Linked DNA regions of Homo sapiens: region 1 is linked to region 2. A link means that fine-mapping ties the variant in region 2 to the expression of a gene that starts in the linked region. Tissue or cell type: spleen. Region 2 holds a variant in brackets; the other region holds the start of a gene. All regions are shown on one strand. Distances are between the middles of the regions.

Region 1 (8,153 bases), 36 kb before region 2:
TTGGAAGTTTGTAGGCCCGCCCTTCACTCTTACCGATGGCCATGTTGGGGCTCAGAAGGGGTGGTCTGTTGAGCACACAAATCTCTGTGGATGGGTCCCCTTTAGAGTCCAGAATCTACTCCTCAACACCTCCCCTGCTCCCACCCTACTGCAAGAAACTACTGTTTCTCAACTGCTCTATCATAAAAGCCTCCTAACTGGTTTCCCTGCTTCCCTGGTTTTCCTCTACCACAGTCCATTCTCCACTCTGAAGCCAGACTGATAAATTGAATTATTTGATTTATTTGCTCAAAACTCACCAGTGACTATTACATTCACAGTAAAATCCAAAGTTTTCACCAGACCTATAAAACTTTTCACAATCTCTCTGACTTCCTCCCCATTCCCCGCTCCTTTTTGTCCATTTCAGCTACATCACCTCCTTGTTATTCTTAAAACATAGCAGGAATACTGCTACCTTGGGCCTTTTACTTTCAGACAGCCCCTGGATCTTCCTTCTCCCAGTGAATTGCATGTTCAGTTCTCGTAGTTACTTCTGACTTCTGCTCAAATGTCACCTTTTCAGAGAGGCCTTCCCTCATCACCCTATGTAGAATATCTTATTCTGATTCATTTTTCTTCACAGCACTTACCACTTAACATAACTTGTATCTCCACAAAAGAAAGTAAAGTCAATAAATAAAGGATCTTTGTTTTTTTCACTGCTATTTTTTTCAATGCCTAAAACAACATTGAATTATTATGGTAAAAGTGTTTTAAATTATTTAATCATGGAATCATTAAAACACAAATAATTGCATATCCTGCCATGGTGGGATACTCTAGGTGAGGCAGAAAGAGAAAAAGGTGGGGCATTGGCAACCATGGAAAATGTAAACTACAAACATAAGATAGATATACTGAAGGAGGTGATATTCTTGGAAGGTGCTGTGCCCCATGGAGGGCTGGATTTGTGGTGACTGGGATATACAGTGGAGATGGCAGCAGCTGCATCTCTGTGTGCTAAAGAGACAGTAGAGACAGCCCATCACCATCTTATAATGGTGGCAAAATCAACGAGCAGGAGGTTCCAATGATGATAACTATTCATCCGGACTTGGTTAATATGTGAATTCACCCTACTCTGGCCCTCATATTATTCCTGTTCCACTTTCAAACTTGAACAATTTGGGTTTGAGAAATTCAGGCAGTCTTTATGACTAAATATCTGGGCCTATCTATGTAAAATGTTTCCCTTTCTGTTTGAGCATGTTATGATTGTTTTCCCTACATATGGGTCTATTTATGTGTCTCTAGGTATTTGCATCTGTGTTTGCACATGGCTGTGTGTACTCATATGTGGACTCTATATGCCTGTATATGTGAATTTTTTACTATGTGAGCTTGTGTACATACACACACCTGTCCAAGGTGACATGCTCAAAATAATCAGTTTCATATACCATGCTCAAGTTTCATATACCATGCTCAAAATGCTCATGTTTTAGAGATAAAAACATTATTTTTATCTCTATATTAATATATGCATGTGGTTTGTGTGTTAATGTACATATAGTAGGTGAGACAAAAATCTCACACAGCTAGTTTTTTCTTTTTTTTTTTGCAAAAGAAGTAAAGCCAAACCTCAGATCGCAGCAAGTGAGTGTAGCCATTTTATTGACAGATGTTTCAGCCACGACCAATGATCTATTATTCAGTACAAGACACATTGGTTGATAACTCTTATTCCAGGACTTCTCCTGGCTGGAAGCATCAGGAAAGGTGCAAAAGGCAAATGAGATGGTCAGGTGGGTCAGCAGGCAGGTAGCAAGCAAACAAGTAGGCATGGTGGTTAGAATCTCTGGGATCTCTTGAGCTTGCGGATAGCAGCATTGGTGTCCCCTTCAGTAGCAATGAGTGCCTGTAGATTGGCATGGTGGTTCCCAAATCCCATGGCCTGGAGAGAATCCATCTGTTTGCTAAAACAAATCTCAGGAGCTTGCAGAGGGTGGGAAGGGTCCCCATCCGGGGATTGTAGCCTCTGCAGGACTGTTCCAGGCTTGTGGCAGCACTCAGGTCCCTTGGGCTCAGCTGTATCTGAAACATTCCAGGAACAGGGCACTGTGTCAGGATAGCTGCAGCTGGGGGCAGGAAGCCAACCCAGGCCCCATAGGTAGGGTGCAACCCAAGGCAGAAGAACAGGAGCCTCTGTGGCCAGCAGCTGGAGGGCCTGCTCAATCTGCAATATTGCTTGGAATGCTTTAGGGTTGCCTAAGCACTAAGCAGATCAGAAATCTGTGTCTGCTGCAGGAATGTGGGCAGCTGCTGCCTCCACTGTTCACTCAGCTGGGGCATACTTGTGAACAACATAATCTGAGCTGCCAGGTAGGGGTTGTTCATAAGCAACTGCATCATGCCTCCTGTGATCTGGGAGCTGCTCTGCTCATCTGACAGCTGGAGATCACCCTTTAATGTCTGTCTGGAGCTACTTAGAGAAACAGTGGCATCCTTGTATTCTTCTTGAAGCTGCTGGGTAAGCTCTATGCTAGGTAAGGCTGGTATCCAAGCTGGCTGCCGAGTGGCACAGATATGGCTCTGGCCCTTGGTGGAAATCATAGCAGTGTTGGCTTTGGAAGTGTGGTTGACCTTGTTAAGGGTGTCATTGGCTGAGGTGTTTGAAGAGAAACCACCAGAGCTATTATAGATGACTCGGGTTGCAGGATGCTGTGTGAGCTGGTCTTGTTGTTCCTGTGATGGTGGTGGAGGTGGGGGTGAAGACTGGACTTGTTCTAGCACTTGTCCTGCCAGGAGAGCTGTGAAAGGGTTTCCTCCAAAAGGATCTTGCATGCTGTTCAGCATTTGATCATTGATATCAGCATAGTTCTGACCCAGGGCATTATTCCCACCTGGCATTGTCTCTAAGCCCAGATATGGCTGTGGGTTCAGTGGATACTCAAGGTTTTGTGAAGGTTGTTGGATCTGCATTATCTCTTGGATCATAGCAAGGTTCCTGGCCAGCTCCAGAGTCTGCAATAGGATCTCAGAATTATCAAGAAGAAGGCGGGAAACTTCTGGGTTCTGCTGCATCAATTGTTGCGTGTCTAGATGTTCTGAAATGAACTGCCACATGAACTCCATGTTGGACAGAAGCCGCTGGATGCTAGGATTCTCCAGCATCTGTGCTTTGCACTCTGGGTGGCTCACTTCCAAGTTTTGGGTATGCACTTTGGGTGCATCAGACCCCACAAAGTGGGCCAGTTCCACTGGAGCTTGATTCATACCAGTTGGTTGGTGCACTCTGCTGCTGTTTCCTTTGGTGTTTCTGTCCCGGTGGCAGGGATCATTCGTTGGCAGGTCCCGGAAGGAATGGGCTAGAGATCTGGAGCCCTGCTTGGACTTGATGACCAAGTAGATGGTGTGGCCATCCATGATGCCCCTCTGGCTCAGTGTGTCATGGTCTTTGAGAAGGCAACCCATGAAGACCAGCACTAGTTGGTCCATCTGGCATTGGAAGTGAGCCAATAGCATCTCCTTGAACTGCCTTACCGAGATGTCATCAGCTACCATAAAGTCTTTCTGGTTGCCTGCAGTCTTCACTATCACTCGAGTGGCACTTGAAGAGATATTTTTGTCTGCCAGCAGACCTGATGGACATCCACTCTGGGACATCCTGGATGTTCGAGAGATGGCATGCCACATGGGCTTTAGTGGGTGGGCAGATGGGGAGCAGGTGGAAGCTGGGGCAGAAAGGGTGAGGGCAGACAAATGTTTCTGCTGGCCTTTGTCTCAGGTATTGTGCTCTCAGGCCACAGGATAGTTTCCTTGTTGCCCTAAAAGGGATGAGTGACCAGACTGGGGCCAGATATTTTGTGATGTTGTGCCCTCACCCCAGTTCTCCAGATGTGGCCCAGCTGAGGCCTGGCATAGCTACTGATTCATAATTCACCCATGGTGGACAAAGTGGTGATGACTTCTCCTAGGGCTACCCCTCCTCCTACCCCACCCACCAGGGGCATGAATCCTCAGAAAAGGGATATTGTGATGTCAACTCTATCCTCGCAGTCACCCTGGGCCAGCTGGGGAAGGAGGACATATTTAGGGGTCCAGGGCTCTACAATAAAATAAAATAATTTTCCAGAAAACAGGGACAAAGTTCTCTGGATGGAACTAGTAAGAAAACAAAAAAGTAAATAAAAACCATATTTTTAAATGTGGGATGTGTGTTTCCGTGTGATACTGTGTGTATGTTCCTTATAGGGATGTTAGACTTGTATGAAAAGTTGGGTCTACTGAAGCCATAGATAAAGCCACATTCCTATAAGAATGCAGTCTCTCCCATAGGAAGGAGCGCATTAATTTTTTTAATGATCTGGAAATTTGGGTCTTATATAGAGTCTAGATTTTGGGATTCTATATTTAATTGTGCTCCCATGTGGTGGGGAAAATTTTCCTCTGTCCTAGGAAGCAGGAGTAGGGCTAACCAGGAAGGCTCTTCATAGGCACATGCCAAACTAAATGTGAATTAGCTCTTTTTTATAATATGCCTTTTATTCACATATCACTTGGTCTCTTCTACATGTCAATATAACAGAAGTTTTAGAATGATTTGTTTCAATGTCCTAACCCACTCTTGTGTGCCCACCTTTATGTCAAAGCATTAAGGGGGAATGTCGTCTGTAAATCAAGAGGTGGGAGAGGAGGTGGTTAGTAGTAAAATTCTTAAGGGGACAAATACAGGCAACTAAAAAGCTGGATTCTTGGTCCCATGTAAATTTGGAGAATTGTGTTTGGTTTTTATTTAGATGCAGATGGAAATAATTATTTATATGAGTGAGAGTGTACATGTCTTATCGAATGTATATATGAAATTGTATGCATATTCTGTGTTACTAGGAAGCCTTCAGGGTCTGGATTTTATATATTCCATCCACCTGCCTGGAGAGGGAGGAGCACCACACAGATAGCTAAGGAACAAGCAAAAAGCTCGAGCCCATATGTTCCCAGTGTGTTGAAGACAAGCAAAGGGATGATAGGCCGTTGGCCAGGAGACCTTCTGCTATCAAACCAATGATTCTTTATTGAGAATATCTAGACCCCCAGCACCATCCATGTCAGATCCTCATCATGCTATAAGGCCAGTTGCTAACTTACTACAGCAAGACTCAGGCCTATTCTCTTGCAATTGCACTCAAAAGTGAGATCGATCCAGGACAATGAAAAATTGATTACCAGACCAAGATCTTGCCCCTTTTCTCCCCAGGGACCTCACAGGAAGGTGGAGATAAGAAAGGGAACTTTCATATCCTACTCTAATGACCAGCTGCCCTGCAGCTTCTGCACTGGAATCAGGTGTTCCCAACCTGAGATTGACAATTCTAGATCACAGAACTCTTGAGTTCCGGGAGCTGGATTTATGAAAAAAGGAATATGAGATGCCAAAGCATCAGAAAGAGAGGGTACCATTTTCTTAGCTAATATTTTACTTTTTCCCTATCAAATCCACCTAGACCATTATTAAAGGGAACCTTAATGTACTGATTGAGATATTAATTACATAAAGAACTCACTAGATATAATCAGTCTTCCAATCATTAGGACCAATGGCCACTTTGGGATGTGGTCCTCCTGGAGGTAAGGAAGAGGGCACACTTCTACCAATGCTCTGCCTAGCCCTGGGGTCTCAGGGTCTGGAAGCCTCGTTAGGTTTGACAGGTTTTGGTGGAGCATGAGCCCCAGAGGGCCTCCTGGTGGGTGGTCTTGGTAGCCTGGTCTTCATTGTCAGGAAGGTGAGGTCATAATTTATCAGGTAACCATCACTGAAGACATACGGCTTGTGGTCTGAGGGGCAGTAGTTGATGCCCTGCAGCTTTTCCAGCATCTTGTCCAACAGGATGCTGAGGCGGCGCTCCTGCCCGGTGGTGGTGTCAAAAGCATAGAAGATCTCCTCTTGGTGGGTGTTCAGTGAGTGTAAGGCATAGAGCACCCCACAGGCCATGAAGGCCCCTGACAGGGCTGGCTTGTACTGGCTGGTACGCCAGGTTTTCTCCACTTCTAGGGTGCTAGCGTTGAGACGACTCACAACCAGGTTGCCCTTGCTCTCCTCAGTGGCATAGAGAACCCACAGCCCCTTCTCATCACCAGCAAAATCTAAGTCCTTCCAGGGCACACCAGCATAGGAAAAGCGGTTGTTATAGGTGGCACCAGGCAGCAGACGCCACAGCACCAGTGTGTTGGAGGAAAGGTCCATTTTGGCCATGTCACTTGTGCCACAGTAGTTAAAGTACATAAAGTTCTTGTACACAACGTTTCCACTGCCATCACCATAGCCCATCTTCCTCTCTTCATAGTTTTTCAGCAGTGCGAGGTCATTATAGGATTTGCACAGCCGATAGTAGTCAAAGTACCTAGGCCAAGTCCCTGCATTCAGAATTATTGGGTGACAGCCATAACTAAGGTAACAAAGAGCTACAAAAATAGGCAGATCAGTTTGCTAATTAAGAGCAGGGGCTTTGCTATCAAACAATTGACTTTAGTTCATCTTTCACTTACTCAACCATGACAAACTAAACAATTATTTTTAAAAGTAACAGTAATAATAAAACACCAATAGCTACAGTGCCTATTAGACACTATATATGCACAATCTTATTTAATTATAATAACAGCACTGTAAGGTAGGTTTTATCCTTACAGATGAAGAGACTAAGTCTTAGAAAGGTTGAGTCATTTGCTCGAGGTCACACAGCTTATAAGTAAAAACTGTAAACAAAAGTAACAAGCTACTTTATTGACTGTTAGGACTGTCCAAAATAAAGCAAAGAAAACAATTAGTACAGCATTTGTTTCAATAAGCAATAAAAAATGGTAGCTATTATTTTTTCTTCCTTATGGAGATTCTTCTGTATCTACTCTGCACTGCCTTCCACCTGTCCTCAAGATGCAAGGGTCCTGTAACAGGACATATTTCTGGAGCTGGATTCAGGGAGATTTGTTCTCATGAGGTCACATTGGAAAGTTCCTTAAATTATCTCTGAGTTATGAGTAATCTTATCTCTTAACATTGTTCTGTAAGTCCTGATTACCTATAGATTTTGAGAGGGTTCCAAGGCGTGTAAATGTATTTTATAGGCTACAAAGTATAGCACATATGAGTTATATGCTACAAATTGTGGCCTATACAATACATTTTAGATAAGCATAGAATTTTGGGAATATTATTTTCAGTAATACTAATTTTCAGTAACACTGATCTTTCTGAGTTGAGCTTCAACTGGAGCTCTTCAATGACTGGTTCAACCTAGATTCATGTCTCTCTCTCGCAACAGGTCTATATCACATTTTCACACACACTGGCTTTTAACATTCTGTGTGTTGGGCCTACCTCCCTAGCAAGGTTGACAATGTATTGAAGGTCTTATTCGTCTATTTATTGACTCTTTTAGCCATTCTTTCATCTAATAAATACATATCATCACCTATGTTTTACATACTTTTCTATGTAATCTTATGTGATCTTCTCAAATATGTATAATTATCCTCATTTTACATATGGCTAAGAAAGGTTCTGAGATGTTAATTCATTTTCCCAAGGTCACTTAGCTTAAATGGCAGTATAGAGTTTCAAACACAGATTGGCTTAATTCCAAGTCTCAAGCTTGGCCAGAGACATGCTCTGAACTTCTAAGCAGGAAGTTAGAATTTTGAGGCCCAGGTGTAGAAGAGTTTGTTCTTTACATAGAATCAGAGTAGAAGTAGAACCATCTTTGAGTTACTATGGGATTAAAATTTGTAGGCAGTGGATTTGTGAAGGAAACTCAGGGCAGTCTGGGTCACGCTTGTCTCATGAGAAGAGCGTTAGGAGGTGACCTGTCAGGCCTAGGCTAGGTTTGCTTTGGGGCATACTTAAAATAGAAGAAACCAGCGTGGGGCTGTAAAGAACCCTGTTTGGGTATGGGTAGGGGACATTTGGAATTAATCCGATTGCAGAACAGAAGTCACTCAGGGCTCACCTGCCATCTGTACGTAGAGGAGCAACCCAGTAAAGGGAAGAGGCTGGATTGGGTGCTGAGTCTCGGCCCCAGGGACCTGCCTTATATGAGAAGCCTCTCCGAGTGAGCTGCACCACAAGGGATTTGCTAACTTCCTGGAGGCCTCCATGGGCACAAGAAGCTAGG
Region 2 (8,209 bases):
GTAAAGGAATAACCTAGGGCACCTGTTAAGATGAAAATTATATGGCCCACATGAAATAATTCTAATATTATCTTTTAAAAATTCCAGTGGCTTTAGGGGTACAAGTGTTTTTTGATTACATGGGTGAATTGTATAAGGTTGAAGTCTGGGTTTCTAGCGTACCTGTCACCCATATTGCGTAGATTGTACTCAATAGGTGATGTTTCATCCCTCACCCCTCTCCTAGCTTCTCCTCTTCTGGGTCTCCAATGTCCATTATACTACTATGTGTGCCCTTGCATACCTATAGCTTATCTCCCACTTATAATTTTTAAAACATTAAACTTCATTAAACATTTTTATTGGTAAAAACAATATGAGCAAATAAAATATATTCTTATGGAGAAACTGTTAGGTCTACCAGCTGGTACTGTCAGGAATTTCTGCAAGTCCAGATATCAATTTTTACCTAAGAGGCTTTTACCCAACAATTCTGAAAGCCAAGTCAGTTTTTGTCAATGTTTGTCAAACGTTTGCTAAATATTGTTGAATGTGTTAATTAATAAAGATTGCCAGGAGTCCACTCAGTACTCTGAATGTTCTAGAATATCTGGAATAAACCAGAACTAATGAGATTAGTATTGTATTGGCTCCCAACAGAATTTTTACCTTTCGCTGAATAAAAATTGAGGTTGCTTCACCTCTCTATACTAGGATAAGGGACTGAAGAGTCACATGAACTTGTGTATTCTGTAAGAATGTGATTAATTGCATCACTTACTGCCTATTCTTTAAGAGCTTTCTAAAGATATTTCTCCATTCTTCATATAAGAAGTAGTTTTGCTTCTCTAACAATTAACTGTCTGTAACTTATAGCCATCATGAATTATGTAGCTAATCATGTTTAACTCTCACATAGACTGTTAGAAAGCTTACAGCTCAATTTCTGACCCACATATAATAAGAGAACAAAAATTCATAGCAGGTGGAAAGTGTATTTTCGGCCTATTTTTTGTCTTAATTTTTAAAAATCTTTCTACTTTTCTTTTTGCCTTTTCTATTTATACTTTGTAATATGCCACATAACAATGTTTCTGAACAATTGTCCCATAAGATTACAATACCATATTTTAGAGTACCTTGTCTATGTTTAGACATGTTTAGATGCACAAATACCATTATATTATACTTCCCTACAATATTCGGTATAGTAACATGATGTACAGTTTTGTAGCCTAGGAGCTATAGAATATAATAGAGAGCCAAGGCTGTATCACACAGGTTTGTGTAAGTACACTCTATGATATTTGCACAATAATAAAATCATCTAACAACACATTTATGAGACTCTATCCTCATTGTTAAGTGGGACCTGACTATATTTTTATTTATGGTATGCAAAATACATCAAGTAATTTTGGAAACAATGCATGTAGCTATTGTCACATGTTAAGAGATAGACTATAAATTCAAACACAATTCTCCGAGTCCAAAGGACATTCTTTTCTATTAAAACTATATGTTGAGAGCCATTGTAGAAATAAAAATTCAATGACATGTGAAAAGGGTAGTAGCACGGGGATGGGAAAGTAGTCTCAAGGTAAAGAGACCATGAACAACTCTGATATTTTGAGTCAAGTGAAAGCAGTGAGGGTTTGAACTACTGGGGTAGGGGAGGAGGGTGCCTGCACTCAGCCGGGGAATCCAAGAGGTTATTTAGAAAAAAACCACAGGTTTTGAGGACGTATCAGATTTGAAAGGGAAATAAGACATTGATTATCATTGCTGCCTGGCAGACACCTAAAAATAAGTATTACTGACCAAGTGACTGAATGACTCACTATGACCAAGTTATGCATACTGGATTTGAAGAGACAATGAATCATACAGAGGTACATTTTTGGCTTGTGACTACATCTCTATGGAGATACAAACATGAAAAAAATTGAGACCACCAATGCTTCCAATTGGTCAAGTCTTAAACCCACTTCTTAGTCTGTACGTGCTTTACCATTTTACTAGCCATAGGAATTTGCCTTCCTCCTTTTATTCCTTGTGGAAAACTCCACCCACCCACAACTCATTTGGCTTTCTCAAGGTTGAGTTAAACATTGAGTTTTATCATTGCCTTATCCCTTTGCTTAATATAAACACCTGCACTCTTAAATTAATAATTTTATGATTATTTGCCATTTATTTATTTGATAAATGTTGCCTATGTCCCTAGTGTGTGCTAGGTATTATACTTGATGTTGTTTAGAAATTAATAGGAGTGAACAAAGTAAAAACCCAGAACCCTGCAGAGTCATCAAAGAGGTAATTTTCCTGCCTTGCTATGATGTATAAATAAACTACCATGATAAATAAATCTGAAAAACCATTCAGATTTGCCAATCATTACATTGTCTTCATTAAAAGTTTTATAATCACTTTAGAGCAATCATAAGGAATTACAAAAGTTCTTGTTTCTAGAAGTCAAAAAATATTTATTATTTCCTAGACTCAGAACTTACTTTGCTATAACTGAAATGATTGAGTAGACTTCTGCCTCAAATCACAAAGAAAGCAAAACTCAAGTTTTCGTTAATAAATTTTAGTCTGTCCTTTCTCTTGGGTGTCTGAACACAGGTTCAGTCTTTGACCTAACACACACTAGGAACTTGTCCCTACCTCCAAGAGCTCAGGCACCTATCACTGGGACCCCTTGGGAAAGAGCAAAAGGATTCTGTTCTGGATTTGCTTGGTCTTTATTCTGTAGACAATAGAGTTGAGAGCAGGTGGAATGATTACATAAAGGTTGGCAAACATAATATGAAAGGTATGAGGGACATTATGCCCAAAGCAATGGGCAAGAATGGAGAAGAATGCTGGTATATAGAATATGAGGATAACACAGACATGGGAACCACAGGAGCAAAGGGCCTTCTGACGGGCATCTTGGGAGGGGAGGCAAAAGACAGCACAGAGGATGAGGGTGTAGGAGACAGCAATGAGGATCACGTCTGTCATCACCGTCATGATGGGAACACAAAATCCACACCAGATATTGATGGAGATATCAGCACAGGCAAGCTGGGCAACACCTATGTGCTCACAGTATGTGTGAGAAATGATATGTGTCCTGCAGAAGGGTAAACGATTCACAAGGAAAACACATGGGACAAAAACACAGAAACTTCGGAAACATATTCCCACAGCAATTTTGACAATGGTTTTGGGAGTCAGAATAGTAGTGTATCTCAAGGGTGAGCAAATGGCCATATAGCGGTCAAATGCCATGGCCAGCAGTATAGCTGAGTCCAACACAAAGCTATAGTGCAGAAAGAATAATTGGGTGAGACAGCCAGGGAAACTGTTTGGGGACCAAACCAGAAGATGCTAAGTGTTTTGGGGACACATGTGGTGGACAATATGAGATCAGTAATGGCCAGCATGGAAAGGAAAAAGAACATGGGTGCATGAAGACTGTGCTCTACCACAATGAGGTAGAGAAGGATACTATTGGCCACGACAGCCATGAGATAGATTAAGCAGAATGGGATGCTGATCCAGACGTGGTACTGCTCAAGTCCAGGGATACCCAAAAGGATGAACAGGCCTGTACCATGGTCACTCATGTTGTACATGGCCTTTAAGATCAATAGCTTCTGTGTCCTAAAAACAAATTGCTTATAATGAACATGAGGAAATTGTATGGTAATTCTTCCTCCACTGCTTCCTAGGGGCTGGTCCGCCTCTTTCCTATATTCCAAGAAAAAACCTCTCATTGATATTAACAGCAATGTTCATCACTTGAAGAAAGACTCTCAGACCCAATACTTCTGATACTAATCATCCAGTTACTCTAGAATCTTCTTCAAACTGCATAAACTGCTGTTCCCATTTTAATGACTGAGTTCTCCCTGGGTCAATGTAAGTTGCTGCTATATAAATATGAGTATAGAGAAAAGTAGTCTAACTACATGCAGGGATAGAAAGAAACTGAAAAATACTGGGTCACAGTTGGGAAAATGAGATAATTAACAATTACTGACTCCTAGTACATGCCAGTTTCTTGAAAAATATTATCTTATTTAGAAAAACCTTCTGAGATACGTATTTTTATCCACCTCATTTTTTTTTTTTTTTACAGAAACTGAAACTGAGACATAATCTTACCTAACATCTCACCTTTAGTAACTAGCAGAGCCAAGGTCATTAGATTCCACAGCCACTACTCTTTCATGTTGCTGTTACACCAGGTAACTGCTTCAACTCACTGTGAGATGCCAAGAATTCAGAAGAGGCGTGGACGTGTAGCAAAGGATGTAAAGAAACGGATCACTGGAACTGTAATTTGTCCCAACACTGACCCTACCCCAATTTCAACGACTGTTCTGATATCTCAGACACTACATAGAGAGACTTAAGGCTTGTAGACCAGAATGTTCTCTGAGATTGTGATGTTTGATGCCTCCTATATGAATGAAATGAGAAAGGGTATGAGGCTCAATCTCAGTCCACCCTTAGGAATTAATGAGGAAATCTTGTTTAAGAATCAGAGAAAATTGGTTTGTGTGCTTTTTACAAATACAGAGAGGACCTCTAGTGGAAGAAAAATACAATTTATATATTCTAAATCCTAGGTCAAGCTAAAAGCAAATAAACTTTATAACAGAAGCTAATATTTTTTGAAAACCTTTAATATACTACATGAGACCACTTTTGTAATTTTCTTAACAATTCTATGAGACAGGTAATAATATTATCCACATTTTAAGGATGCAGAGAAAAGTGATTTGTCAAAAGTCACACAAGAAGGAAATGGTAGTGCTGGGAATCAGACCCACGAGTCTTTTCCTAGACTCCTCTATATATAACCAAAATTATCTACAGAGTCTGTATGGCAAATAACATGTATAATATCTGCATAGCAAAAGATACAAAATTAACCAATATATAGAAAACTAAAAATATAAAACAAGTTAACAACATAAAACCAAATACATCATTTATGCTTATAAATGTAGATTGCTGGAATTCCTCTATCAAAAAGCACAAAGATAAATAAAG[T/C]TTAAAAATTCAATTATATGTCACTTATATGAGTAAGATCTAAAACAAAATGATGCATAAAGGATAAACAAGTGTGAATAAACAAGGATAAAAAGGATAGACAAGTGTGTTTCTGACAAATTTAAATGTGATGGAAGCAAGTCTAGCAAAATGGAAAGCATAAAAAGTAAAATTTAACTTAGAAAGCATTAAACAGGACAAAAGGTAGTTTGCACAGTTAAAAGGAACAAATGTTTATTAATACTACAAATAATTTGCCAGGCCCAGGAAACCAGACATGATGCTAAACCTTAGGTATTCAGAAACACATATCAGTCTATTCTTAAGAGAACATTACCTGCTAAAGTCAACAGATTTGTAAAAGAAAATTTCAATGCAGAATGAAAGTCATAGGGAATTCAAAGATGCCTGTGGAAACTGAGTGGAGAGGTATTATCAAAACCTGTAGCATCAGAGAAGATCTTGAGAAATAGGTGAAACAATGTGAGTCTTGAGGATGATGCAGATTACTCAAGAAGACAGAGAAAAAACATTTCAGGCAGAGAAAGCAACACATACAAAGGCTTAGAGGCATGAAGTTATGATATATTTTGGTAAATTTACATCATCTAGGTATATTTAGCGGAGTGCTGGGAAATGGGTAGCAGCCAATCAGTCAATAAAGATGTAAGCATGTAATAGGTACTGGAAAGATAGTGTGTATAAAACAGATGCAATGCCTCTCGTGGTGGAGATAATTTATTGAGGAAGACAGACACTATTCAAATAAGCAGTAGGTTATATGTATAAGAATAATTATTACCTGCGATGTATGTTATGGAAATATATAGGTTATCATGAGAATCAATAACAAAGACGATTGGACCTGCAGGAGATAGGAAAGGATTCTTGGAGGAAGATATTGTAAAATGAGGTTGATTTTAACAAAAATATAATAAAATAAATAATACTGAATTCTACCTGTAAGTCAATTGAATTTAGCCCTTCCTCCCTCCCAGAGAGGTAGGTCCCCCTTATTGTTTCCATATTACAGACAAGAAAAAAGATGATACACAGAAAGTATATCCAAATTTGTTCAGCTGTTAAGTGGAAAAGCCAAATTTCTAACAGGTAGTTTGACCTCAGATCTTTTCTTCGACTCCACTTTACACTATATTATTTTCAGTAGGCTAAAACAGAAAGGAAAGCATTTAGAAAGAAAAGTGTGTGTAAAGTCCTTCAGGTAAGAAGGAGCTAGATGTGGAAATAAGCTCCTTGAAAGCAGCAGGTACTTGGTGGTGGTGGTGGTGGTGGTTGTTATGTGTGTTTTAATATATGTGGCTCATATGCTAAAAATGAAAAGAAAAAGAGAAAGAGAAAGAAAGAAAGAGAGAGAGAGAAAGAAAGAAAGAGAAAGGGAGAGAGAGAGAAGGGAGAGAGAAGAAGGAAGGAAGGAAGGAAGGAAGGAAGGAAGGAAGGAAGTCTAATGAAAACATCAAAATTATGAAAAATAGCAAACATTTTTAGCAGGCACCTAGCCTCTTCAAGAGACATTCATCTGGAAAGGTGGCATTCATCTGGATGCATTGGTTATGCCATAAACCCTAAGTATAACCAGCATAAAAGGATGCACCCTGTCCCAGTTTGCTATTCTTATATTTATGCATTTGTCCAACCACCATTTGTTGAGGCAGTCTACAGGACAGTATAGACGGTTACGAGGAAAGAGCTGGAGGCCAGACACTCCTGGCTGCCATACACCAACTCCATCAGTTCTCTTTAGATGAAATTGGGAAATTTATTTAACCACTCCAAGATTCTGTTTCCTCATGTGTGTATGAAGATCTAAGCTACCTCACAGGGTTTGAGGATTGATTGCAATGTTATAAGCAATGCACTTTGTACATTGTTTAGTACATTACATAGTGATCTTTTTTTAAGTTTTAATTTAATTTTGTATTTTATTCTACTGTGTAACAAGCACTGTGGATGCAGATATGACTAAGACTTTTTTTTTTAACTGTCCTCAAGGAGATCACGGATTAGTAGGGAAATACACACAGAAGGAGGCAATTCCACTGCAGAGTGACAAATAATATGTAACCTCAAAAAGCACAAGGATCTGTGTGGGCACAGAGAAGATACTATGCAATTAGGAAAGAGGGCAGGATGGTCAAGAATCTTATATTGGAGCTGTGTTTTGAAGGAAAAAGAGAAATTCTCAAGGCAAATGACAGGAATAGGGATACGCTAGGCAGAGAAGACATTATTTCAAATGTGAAGGATTAAGTGAGAATATTGTGAGATTTGGGGAATTGTATGCACCCCGATATGGACAGCACCCTAGATATGCTGAGACTGAGAGAAAAGAAGAGGAAGGTCAGATGAGTTTGGAGAAGTAAACAAGAACTTGTACTTTCTGATTCAGAACTTGAATCTTATCCTGAAGACTAAGGGAGGGAGGGGGCTGATAGAGGATTTTACTTGGGAGTGTGACAGAATGAAATTGACATATTGAAAACTGCATTCTGGCTGCTGTGTAGACTTGCTGTTGGAATGAAGTAAGATGCAATTGAAATGAAGTTTTAGAAACAGAATGAGTTTGAGAATTTCCCTGTAGTCCAGGGAGAAATGATGATACATGCTAAAAGGGATGAATTAAATAATGCTTCCTCCAGGGCTGGAATTGGGGGAAATGCCTAGAGTGCAACATTTAAGGAACAAAGGACTCACTCTCAGGGTTTTAAGTGCTTCCTTTAATGTTGCATCCTAGGCACCTCTATGGGGCTCACTGCTCAGTACACAGACACTCAAGGTGTTATTGCCAGTTAAACAGAAAAGAAGTTTACTGTTTTCTTCTTTGCTCACTTGTCCCTGTGTGCTGTTTAGCTGGAGACAGGGGCAGGAAACAAGTCCCAGAGGTCACTCCACTGGGACTTTCTTAGGAGCCATAAATGCTCTCAGGCTCATCGTGTCTGCAGCGCAGTGGGAGTCTCCCATCTGTGGTTGAAGGAATGGATGGAAGTGTGTGAGCTAGATTGCACAGATAGCAAGCAGAACATTTCTGGTGAACTTGGACACACAGACACGTGGAAGTTACTGTAACCACCTAGATTGCAAGAAACCTTTCCTTTGTGGGCTAGCCAAGTGGGCAGGAGTAAAGTAAGTAATTTTATTTCAGAGTGTAATTTTTGGCTAC

Evidence for each region. PIP is the estimated chance that this variant, and not a neighbour inherited with it, causes the effect.
Region 1: UBQLNL starts here. The variant in region 2 is the best candidate, but not a certain one, in a credible set for the expression of UBQLNL in spleen (GTEx, PIP 0.65).

The regions. Positions count from the first base shown.
Region 1 is chr11:5,512,764-5,520,916 of GRCh38, forward strand. UBQLNL (ubiquilin like) reads right to left here and starts at 3,936. Exons shown (of 1, transcript NM_145053.5): 1 at 1,630-3,936. The coding sequence starts at 3,678. The coding sequence ends at 2,251. It also overlaps the pseudogene OLFM5P.
Region 2 is chr11:5,548,992-5,557,200 of GRCh38, forward strand. It overlaps the pseudogene OR52H2P. Among named protein-coding and RNA genes, the nearest start is that of OR52H1, 4.6 kb to the left of the region's middle. RefSeq lists an enhancer at 7,468-8,032. The variant T/C (reference allele first, on the strand shown) is at 5,032.